Linked DNA regions of Homo sapiens: region 2 is linked to region 1. Evidence: fine-mapped expression QTL. A gene starts in region 1. The other region holds a variant in brackets. All regions are shown on one strand. Distances are between the middles of the regions.

Region 1 (5,388 bases):
ATGGGATGTAAAACTACATATGCTTTACAAAATACTTTATTCAACAAATAAAAGACGTATACTCACAAAACCAGTACCAAAGCCAAAATTGTCTCACTCTTAAGTGAGAAGTTACTTGAAAGATGGTTTAGATTTCTTACATTCCCAGGATGAGTCTGGCAGTCTGTTTTGAAAAGTTATTCTATTCACATTTACATATTTTTTTAAACCTTATGACATCACATTGCTAGAAACCTTCTTATACTGGCAAATTGAATAATTAAAGTTATTACGTGTAGACATTCTTGTATCAGTGGTTTACCTGAGAAACTAACTTTGAATAAATTTCAAATCCAAAAAAAAAAAAAAAAAAAGACACAATCAGCACTTGACTTTTACTTCAGGAAAATAAAGTTTTACTTGGGAACAGATATTTTAGCATAAGAACTTAGCATAAGAACAAACTAAAATGATTAGTATTCCAAAGGTACAAAATCATATTTGGCCAAAATCCTTCAAAAGCCAACGTACCACTACTACAGACAGATCTGGGTGACGATGCGTGCTTATTGCAACAGTGAACTTCTGGACCTTAGAATGTGCCCTGTATGTAACAGCAGACGCTGAAGAACTTGAGCCAAGCCTTCAAGCTTGAAGGTCATGGAGCGTTTGCTCACATCATTGATCTATTCCACTACAGTAGGTCTTCTAAATCACATCTATATTTAGAAGAATGAAGCCAAAAACCTAACCAGTTTAGATTTAAATTAACTTTCGAGTAAAATCTAACTCTCAAGTGGAAGCTGCCCCCAAACATTCTCTAACTACTATCACAAGATTTTTAAACTATGTCATTTAATCTTACAAACATAATTTTTGGAAAGTCCATGTTTAGCAGTTTCCTTTCCTTGTACTATGTAGAGATGAAATAAAACCCACTGATCACCACCTTCAGCTTTCTGTTGACCTAAGGCAAACACAGATATTTTAATATCTCCTCCTATTTTGAGAATAATTTCCATAGTCTGAATGTTTCCACCAATAAATACCTTTCAAATGAAGGACTATTATAGTGCCATGTATTAGGCAACTGTAACCAATAATCCACTTTTGCCCATCACAGAATTGATTTAAAATCTCTTACTGTTGACCTAAAAACATAAGTTCTTCATAGCCAAGTTCCACATTAGCTAGGCCTTAAATCAAGGCAACAATTGAGCAGCACAATTCTACTCCTGGGAAAATATTTACCAAAAACTAGCGGAAAATCTTGAATAACTAGTGTCTGTTTTTTTATTGTATTTTTTCTTTGAACGGAGTAGAGTTTACTCATAACTCTCTATACCAATTAAATCATAATGACCAGCTAAAGATTAACAGTTTCTTTAAAAATTACAAACTTACCCCATTCTAGGTATTCGAGAATGTTCTTCTCTCTTCTCAATGGAGAATTATTGCATTCATCATAAAGGCAGATGAGTATATCCAGTAATGTCTCCACACTGAAGCACTGCCCATTGGTCTGAGCGGGCCCGTCCAAAATAAACTGCTCCAACTGCCTCAAACGCACTTCTCCAGACATGTTTGCTTCGATTTCTGCTGGTTTTCCTTTAAATTATTATGATGACTTTTACTATTATCTGAACCTAAATTTTAAAAGGTATGGTTTTAAAAATAAACCACTTGTTATTCAAACAACTGTCATGCAATGCTGGTGCTGAATTAAACATCCAACACACCAGTAACCTCACTTAACTGAAGCGTCTTCAATTTCACCCATATACATATATTTTGAGGGTAAATTACCATAAAATATATACTTAATGCATTTTTAAAAGAATACAATTAAGTCGTATATTTAAATAAAATAATAATTAAAAGTACAACGAACTAGAGAGTCAACACTTCTTTAAAAAAAAAAAAAAAAACTCTTCTCCTTCATTCAAAATTCAACTCGTGCAACGTAATCCTGAAACGAATCCGGTTGCATCATTAATGAATAAAGTCCGATTTGCATCAGCAATTCACTTCCCGGGAAGAAGAAAAACAGAAAAGGGAGGAAAAAAACAGAATGCATAGAAGGGGGAGGGAAAACCAAAAATGTTGCTGCAAATCCTCCCAACCACCACTTGGATAATGCATCAGCGGCAATTTCTCCAGCGGGAAAGGGAGGGGGCGAGGTCCCTGAAGCAGCCCCTCGGCTCGGAGCACGCCAAGTCTTGCCCGGAGGCGGCTTTTCGTTTCTCCTCCCGAGGTCCTTCTTTCTTTAAGGCTTTGCAGTCAGTCCTATTTTCAACGGATTCCGGTGAAAACTCTTCATTTTCCTCCCGGCTTCACCCTAGGGCCTGACCGGCGGCGCGGCCGGGGGTGGAAGGCGGGCTGCGGGCGGCACTGGCACCGGGCTCCGGAGAAGCGGCTACTTGGCCGCCCGAGCCCACTCCATGTCGGTGGTCGCTCGTGGGCCGAGCCGCGCCGCGCCGCGCCGGGCAGAGAGCCCGGTCTCCCCGACACCCGCACCGGGCCGCCGCGCCGGAGGCTCCCGACGCCCCAGGCGGGGGGGTGCTTCTCTGAATTCAAAGGACACAAGCAGCAGCAGCTGCGGCGGCGGCGCGGGCGGCTCTGGCAGCTACTTCTCCCCCTTCTTCACACCCCTGGGCTAAGGGCATCTTTCCACAGCGAGGAGGGAGGCGGCCCGGCGCAGGAGGAGGGGTCGCTTCCGCGGCTGAGGAGACTAGAGGCTGCGGCAGCCCGGCTCCCAACCACTCCCTTCCTCTCCCTTCCAGCCCTCCCCCGCCTTCCCTCTCCTCTCGCGCTCGCGCCCTGGGCTCAGCGAGGCTCCTCCAGTCCCGCCGCACAGAGGCGGAGGCTTGCGGACGAGTCTGGATCCAATATGGCGGCCTGGCCCCCCGGCCCCGGCACACGCGCGCGCACACGCCCTCCACTCCCCGCCCCCGCCCTGCCCGAGCCTCAGCCCCAGCCGGCGGCCAAGCCGGGCGGGGTCCGGCCGGCGCGCCCAGCGGAGGCCCCCAAGGGGGCGCGGGCTCGGGGCCCGAGTGGCTGCGCCAGCCCGAGGGGAGGGGTGTGGACTGCCTAGGCGGCGAGGCTGCGGCTGCCGCAGCGTGGAATGCGGAGCTGCGGGAGGGCTGAGGGAGGCCCGGGCGGCGGTGGCGGAGCATATGGAGGCGGGATGACCGGGCCGCGCCGGGAGCTGCGGCGGGACTGGGCGCAGGCTGGGAACTGCGCCACCGCCGCGCCGTGGCCCCGGCTCCCCGAGGCTTCTGGTGCAGATCGCGAAGGGGGGCTCCTGCTCGTCCTCGGAGACATCACCTGTCTGGCGCGTTTGTTAAGGGCGCCCAGAAGCAGAGGGCTTTAGGCTTCCGACAGAGCTGGAGGAGACGGTGCCTTTCAGCCCCTTACCTGCTCCCCACCGGCCCCCCAGATTCGGTTCGCGCACACTCCAGAGTAATCGTTTCTTAGGTGTCTAATTACAGCACTTCGTGTGTCATTTCCCAGGACAAAAACAATGACAGACTTGTCCGAGCTACCATCGAAGTCTTGGGTCTGCACGCAAAGGATGGAATCCCCCATCTCCATTCCCAAAAGTTTCCCTACGGGAGCCTGGTGTTGTCTCCTCCGGAACTGTCCTCGCGGCTGCCTGTTTTTCCCTAGCCATGGTTACTGCCTGCGGGGGATTCAGCCTGTGAAGGCAGTCAAGGCAGTTCACCACTGTCATCAAACCTACACCCCTGTGTGCATGCGCACACACACTTGTAACCCAGTGGCACAATGCAGGAATTAGGGAAGCAAAGGCAAATCGCTGAATAGCTAGGGCACCTGATCCCTGTAGGGCCCTTCCAGGTTTTTGTGAATCTCGGTTTTAGGAGAGCTCCCTTTATAAAATTCTCATGGAAGATGCCACATTTAAATTAACACCACAAAACTAGGTCATTGCAGTTCTGTTACTTTCTCTCAAAATTGCCATCTCCTTTATGGTCGTTCTCTAAAATACAATTATTTTATATTCCTTCCCCACACCTGTGAGGCGGTTGTGTTTCTATGTTCATGTCCACAATTGCATCTTACATCTTGATAATATGGAAGCTGAGGAAGAATTAGAAATGAGGGCCTAGACGTAAAATGAAGGCTAACAGAAGTCGATTCAAGTTGTGATTCATGAAATAGTGTGAATCTTTTATGAAATCTACAACGTCTACACTTGCCTGGCTTAAGAACAGCATTATTTTCAATGCGGTCTTGACATGAATGATACTTAGATTCAAACAAAAGGTCAGTCATTTCCAGCCATGACATCTTTATATGGGTGTGTGTTGTCTAATTCTAAAAGTAGTAGAAAAGTTTAATCCTAACACAGATAATAAGCAATATTTTGGTGTTTATTATTCAAGTCTTTTTCCTATGCACTTTAACAAAAATGATACATAATAAAAGAGTTTTATAGCCTCTTGCTTGCAATTAGCAATATATTATGGACATTTTTTCAGTTCAACAAACATTCTTCAACAACATGGATTTTAATGGTGAAGCCAATTTTAACAGTTTCATTTGACCATAAGATGCGGTAGCAAAGAAGGAAGCAATTTCTTCTGCTTTTTCAAGTACGGTTAACTAAAGAAATGGCTCCAAGATACCTGCTTTTCCAACTTACAAATAACTAGAAAGAAGTTTAAAGGAGAACCTAAAACATGTTAGGTCTCACTAAATGCTAATTGACAATGGAAGTATATGAGATGTAGATACTTTTTTTTTTTTTAACAAAAGAGTCAAGCTGTCAGTTCTTTACCTATTCTATTAGCGCTTGGGTACCACCCACAGTCCAGGGTATTGATGGTTGCTAAATAACCCTTTCCACATTATTTAGAAAGTAGAGAGCAGAATTTATTTTTATTTTAAAAAACACACACACAAAGAGAAGGAAGGAGCTTGAACCCAATCAATTTTGCTTGAATAATTCAAGCTCAGAGACTTAATAATTAACTAGACACTAAACACATTGTGCGGGTGTTATTTTAAATGTTCCGGTTGAAGTGTGAACATGCTTGTTAATGAAACCGGTCTTAAGCCAAAGAAAGGCACAGCCCAGCAGCTGTACAGTGCTTGAAGTGTTCCTGCAAAACAAGAGTGCCACAGGCTGCCTCGCAGGGTATTCTTTGGGGAAAAATAGTCTGGAGGAGGTCTTCTTTGTGAAATTCTGCTTGGGGGCCTGGAGATTAGATGTATACCACTGCAAACACCCAATTTGTTTGAAATAATCAGAGAATGTTTTATGAAGATGCTGGGAATTAATCTGACCATTCAGAAAAGAAAGAGGACAGGAGAAGACAAGAAGGTAGGAAGGTGGAAAGAAGAAGGCAGGACAGAAATCATTAAGCCTAGTCCCCAATACAAGCT
Region 2 (5,388 bases), 290 kb before region 1:
ACAATGGAAAGTACTAGGATGTTGATAAGAATTCCTTTATGCTGTTGATGGGAGTATTGGTTGGTACAATTACTTTGGAAAATAATATGACACTATCTCATAAAGCTGACTGAACTCCCTATGTCCCATCAATTCTGCTCCTAGGTATATGACTCAAACTCCTGAAAACTATTCCAAAAAACAGATGCAGCAACATCACAATTGCAAAAAGCTAGTAAATAATTCAATGTCCCCCAGTCAGGGAACAGACAGTAGTGCTAAGTTCACCCAACAGAATATTTTATAGTACTGAAAGCAATAAACTATATGGTATATATAACAACATGAACGAATGAGACTCAGTGGATGAGTAAAGAAAGCAAGATAGAAAATGACTATATATTATAACATTTTCATAAAGCTCAAAACCAAGCAAAACTGAAAGATATATTATTTAGGGATACTTAAATATGCAAAAATTCTGTATTTTAAGAAAAGCAAAGGAATGATAAGCACAACATGACGCAGTTTGCAGTTATATGAGTGATGTTCTGATTCTCAGGTTAGGAGGTAGGTTCATGAGTGATCAGTTTATTATTATCTTTCACAAAGGCCATATATCTATTCTTTCACATACATTGCAAAAATTACATGATAAAAATCAAATAGGGCTGAGTGCAGTGGATCATGCCTGTAATTCCAGCACCGTGGGAGGCCGAGGCGGGCAGATCACTTGAGGTAAGAAGTTCGAGGCCAGCCTGGCCAACATGGTGAAACCCTGTCTCTACTAAAAACACAAAAATTAGCAGGGCATGGTGGTGTACACCTGTAGTCCCAGCTACTCTGGAGGCAGAGGTGGGAGAATTGCTTGAACCCAGGAGATGGAGGCTGCAGTGAGCTGATATCATGTCACTGCACTCCAGGTTGGATGACAGAGCGAGACCCTGTCTCAAAAACAAAAACAAAACAAAAAAATCCACAGAAAAGTAATAATGACCAATCCAAATTTACAAACTAGAGTATATTTTAGTTGCTTTAGATAATCTGGCAGTATTTACAAGAGCTTTTTAAACTGCTATTATGATTTTAAATGGGTGCTAATTTTGAAATATGATCTAAGCTACTTTCACATATTCTCTAAACCCTGTCCCCCAACTAATCATACATGCTATATATATATCACATCTATCTATATGAAACTATTGCTCTTCATTTTTGCAAACTAGCAGTTCTATAATTGTAAAAATTCTCTTTGTTATGGAAACAGGATTATATATTAAGAAAAATATTATGTTTTATTAGGAATATATGAAATATTTATTTTTCAATTATGGACACTTAAACAGTTTTGGTTCTAAGTTTAATTACTTTTCTAGCCTTTTAAATCTGTCCTCACAGGATTAAACACTGGGTGAATGACAGTTATAATTCATAATAATCATGTACTCTCTCAGAGCTCCTTAATCCAAAAGTAGAAGATAACACTGACATTTTAAGTTGTAGGATATATTCTAGTTGTTCATAATAATAACAATCATACTTTGCATAAACCAAATATAGTAAAATTAGTATGGTTTTAGTGAGGCATAAGGAAATTAACCAACTTTATTTCTGTTTCTATTTTCTCACTCTTAGCTAAGTCCCAAACTGCCAATTACACATTCCAGAAAATGTTGAATTAATAAAAAAAAAATTACTATGTAGTAATTTAGTGTTTTCACTTATACTCAGTTGGCTTAGCCCACATTTTAATGTTAAATTACCTTTTTGAGAGGAAGAGTCTGAATCCATTCCATGGAGTTCACATCAAAGATATCAACTGCATTTTCACTGTACACCGAGAGATATGGTGCATTGTAACCTGGGAGAAGGGAAGGGGGGGCAGCTTGCGGATTACTTTTAACTATTAAACCCCAAATATTTTGAAAGGTCTACACTAAATAACTGTAGAGTGGAATCCCACCCAAATCCTATGGGGCTATCATATAGTAGCCAAATCAAAACATTTTTGAAGCAAACAGAACATATATCGTAAATGAGGAACTGGTATACCATGATTCAGATTATATAGCCGTTATAATATAGACGGATTCTGTAAACACCAGGGGTATACTATTTCTTTGCCCAACATGAGTTCTATAAAGGAATTTCATTATATTTGAACTATTTGATTCCTAAAAGTAGTTAAGTTATTGACAGTGAATCAAACTTAGAAAGCAGAGAAATCTTCAGGTAAGTGTTCTAGTCCCTGTTAAGAATGTATAATAAAGCACTGTAGCACAGTTACATGAATAGGGTAGATGCTCAATATACACTTGTTGAAAGAATGAATATCAACAAATGGTGACACAAGCAAAGAAAGATTCAATGGTTTACTTAAACTAAGGTTACAAAGGGAATTATTGAAAGAGCTACACAAAAAAGTCAGACATTCCAACTCTGACTCTACATTAGAATAATCATAATTATTATCTGATTCAGTTACAAGACAGCATTTATTCCACTGATGAGTATGAGAGTGTGTGTGGGTTTGTGTTTTTAGAGATAAGGTCTCACTGTATTGCCTAGGCTGG[A/G]GTGCAATGGCATGATCATAGCTCAAGTGATCCTCCTACCTCAGCCTCTTGGGTAGTTGGGACAACAGGCATGCAACCACTACACCTGGCTAATTAAAGAAAATTTTTTATAGAGACAGGTTCTCGCTATGTTGCCCAAGTTGGCCTCGAACTTCTGGCCTCAAGCGATCCTCCTGCCTCAGCCTCCTGAAGTGCTGGGATTACAGGTGTAAGCCACTGTGCCCACCTAAGACCATATTTTTCAGAAGAAACAAAATATTAAAAATAGTTAATTCCCAAGATCTGCAGTTGAAAAGCTGGAAAGACAAAAAACAACAACAATAACAACAAAAAATAGTTAAGTCGTTCATCCCAGGATGGAGGGTGGGGGAAAAAAAAGTCTGGATGGGTAGAACTAGAGGTATTTTTCTTTTGTCCTGTTCACGCAGACTTTCTGATTTTTCTGTAATGAGCATGGGTTGCCCTCCCAAACTTTCTCGCACTGAACCTTTAAACTTGACTAGACCCATACCCATCACTCCTCCTCCTACCTTGTTACAAATGAAGAGGTTTTACTCCTCCTGCCCCCAAGTAATTCTTGCACCTGTCTTCTGAATTTTGTCCTCTCTGGCCTTCTTGGCGGTCTTACTCTATTTCCCATATAGACAACTTTTCCATGTAGTTCCCTAGGGTTTTTTTTCCCTTCAGCATTTTAACATGCTCAAGTATTTTTCATTAAAAACAAAACAGTTTGGATGAAATACTTCTATGTGCTTCTACAGAACTCTCTACTTCTGCTATCATAGCACTTACACTCTACTGCAACTACTTGCTTTATCACGAATCTTTTCCACTGCACCCCATGCTCTGTGGGGTTAAGACTGTATCTATTTTACTCATTGCTGTTAACTCATATTCAATGGCACATATTCAATAATAATTGGATTATTTTCAATAACCAAAGTATTCTATAATTAAAAGTATTCAATGAGTCTGGGTGTGGTGAGTCAAGCCTATAATCTCAGTGCTTTGGGAAGCCAAGTTGGGAGGATTGCTTGAGGACAAGAATTTGAGACCAGCCTGAACAACTAATGAGACCATCTCTACAAAAACAAAAAATAAAAACATAAGCTGGGTGTGGTGGTGTGCACCTGCTGTCCCAGCTACTCGGGAGGCTGAAGTAGGAGGACTGCTTCAGTGTAAGAGTTGGAGGCTGCAGTGGGCTGTGACGATACCACTGTACTCTATCCTGGGTGACAGAGCAAGACTCCATCTCTCAAAAAAAAAAAAAAGTATTCAATAATTTATTATGTCTTAATATTTCTTGAAGGGGTAAAATAAGCAATTATAAATATCTACCCATCTAGATAAAAGTGGAAAACTGAAAAAACACCTCTTATAGATGTTACATTATACCTTTACATACCTGATTAAATAACTCACTTAGTAACTACTTCTCCAGAATAAGTTCTGTGAAACACTGATGCTTACAAGCACCATATTTTGGGGGACCATGAGATAACAATTCTGGGTTATTTCAAAATATGATGTGGGGTAAAAAATCCATCTTAGTGAAATATTCCACAGAAAGATGTTTTGTTTAAATTACGTGCATGCTAATGCTGGCCCTGTTTGCCCAGGCCTAACTACATATGGTTTTTACATCAACAACATAATCAATACTGAGGAAAAGCATTAAGAATGACTTTTTTAAAAAACTGTTATCAACAATGACAACATTTGGGAGACGAAGTAGAAGGGAAAAGGAAGAAGAGATATAAAGATAAGACAGCCGTAAGAAAGAGAATCTTACAACAAGAGGAAGGATTTGCTGGCCACATCAATTCCTGTTGTCTAGATCTTCGGCCCTGGCAGTCAGTGTATATCCCAATGCTGTTAAAACACAGCAGATATTCTTTACTGGAGATCTCAACTGCGCAGATAGCATCCATTGGTTGATGTGCAATAAATGATAGTGTATGGTCATTTGAATGGAGCATACTGTATGGATTTCCTTCTCCATTCAAGGGGTATCTTAGAAATCCTGACTGGAATCCCACACAGAGTTGTTCACTGAAGATTGCCATCCACTGGACATTATATGGGACTTGAATTTCTTTAAATTTTCTGTGACGGGTCTTGCTCTGAAATAGTTCATAACAGAGGACCTGCCTTTTCATAGCCACACACAGGCATGTGAGAGCTCCATGGCGCACCTTTCCAGAAGTTACGGTTTGACACCCTTTAGTTTCTGACAGCTTGTAAAAATCGGTCTCTCGCCCATCCAATGCTGACATAGGAAAAAGTCGTACATGACGATTTCGTCCTGAGATCACAGCAACAAGCTGATCATTTGGAATGAGTTCAATCTGATGAATCTTCTTATTGTCACCAACTCTAATAATTTCTAAACACAGAAAGAATAATAAATCAAAATATAGTTTTATTGATTAATCATATCCCAATTATACTCAAAAGGATGTAAGTCAACTTACAGATGCACATACGGAAGAATAAGACATCAGAAGTCACAGGAAAAAAAGATTATCCAACCCATCATAAGATAATTTAACTCACCTATAGTACGTATTAAATTTGAGTCCTGAGATTTCTGGCAGCCAAGGCAAACCCCAAAGGATTCTTGTGTAAAAGTATGCCAAATCTTCAAGGAAACTTTTCTACTGGCACTAAATTCTAGGGAACGTCACCATAGGATTCCCATTTTTAAAAACAGAGAACTTATTTTTCAGAAGTTTTTATATGGCTAACAATGCATTGTTTTCCCATGATCTAAGTTGACATAAAGATAAAACTTAGAATACTGTATTTATGAATACCAAGTTATATTGGTTTCTCT

Which allele goes with the higher level. Alleles are on the strand shown, and positions count from the first base shown. SD is a standard deviation of normalised expression in the study named.
With allele G in place of A in region 2, the expression in putamen of the gene that starts at base 2,871 in region 1 is lower (small effect, 0.21 SD a copy in GTEx).

Evidence for each region. PIP is the estimated chance that this variant, and not a neighbour inherited with it, causes the effect.
Region 2: its variant is the best candidate, but not a certain one, in a credible set for the expression of CDC42BPA in putamen (GTEx, PIP 0.85).

Annotation. Positions count from the first base shown.
Region 1 is chr1:227,315,622-227,321,009 of GRCh38, forward strand. CDC42BPA (CDC42 binding protein kinase alpha) reads right to left here and starts at 2,871. Exons shown (of 37, transcript NM_001394014.1): 1 at 1,384-2,871. The coding sequence starts at 1,561. It overlaps LOC124904531 (a long non-coding RNA gene), which reads left to right and starts at 2,971. Exons shown (of 2, transcript XR_007066911.1): 1 at 2,971-3,377; 2 at 3,493-4,440.
Region 2 is chr1:227,024,313-227,029,700 of GRCh38, forward strand. CDC42BPA (CDC42 binding protein kinase alpha) reads right to left here. Exons shown (of 37, transcript NM_001394014.1): 30 at 4,345-4,938; 31 at 1,743-1,840. Among named protein-coding and RNA genes, the nearest start is that of COQ8A, 87 kb to the left of the region's middle. The variant A/G (reference allele first, on the strand shown) is at 2,553.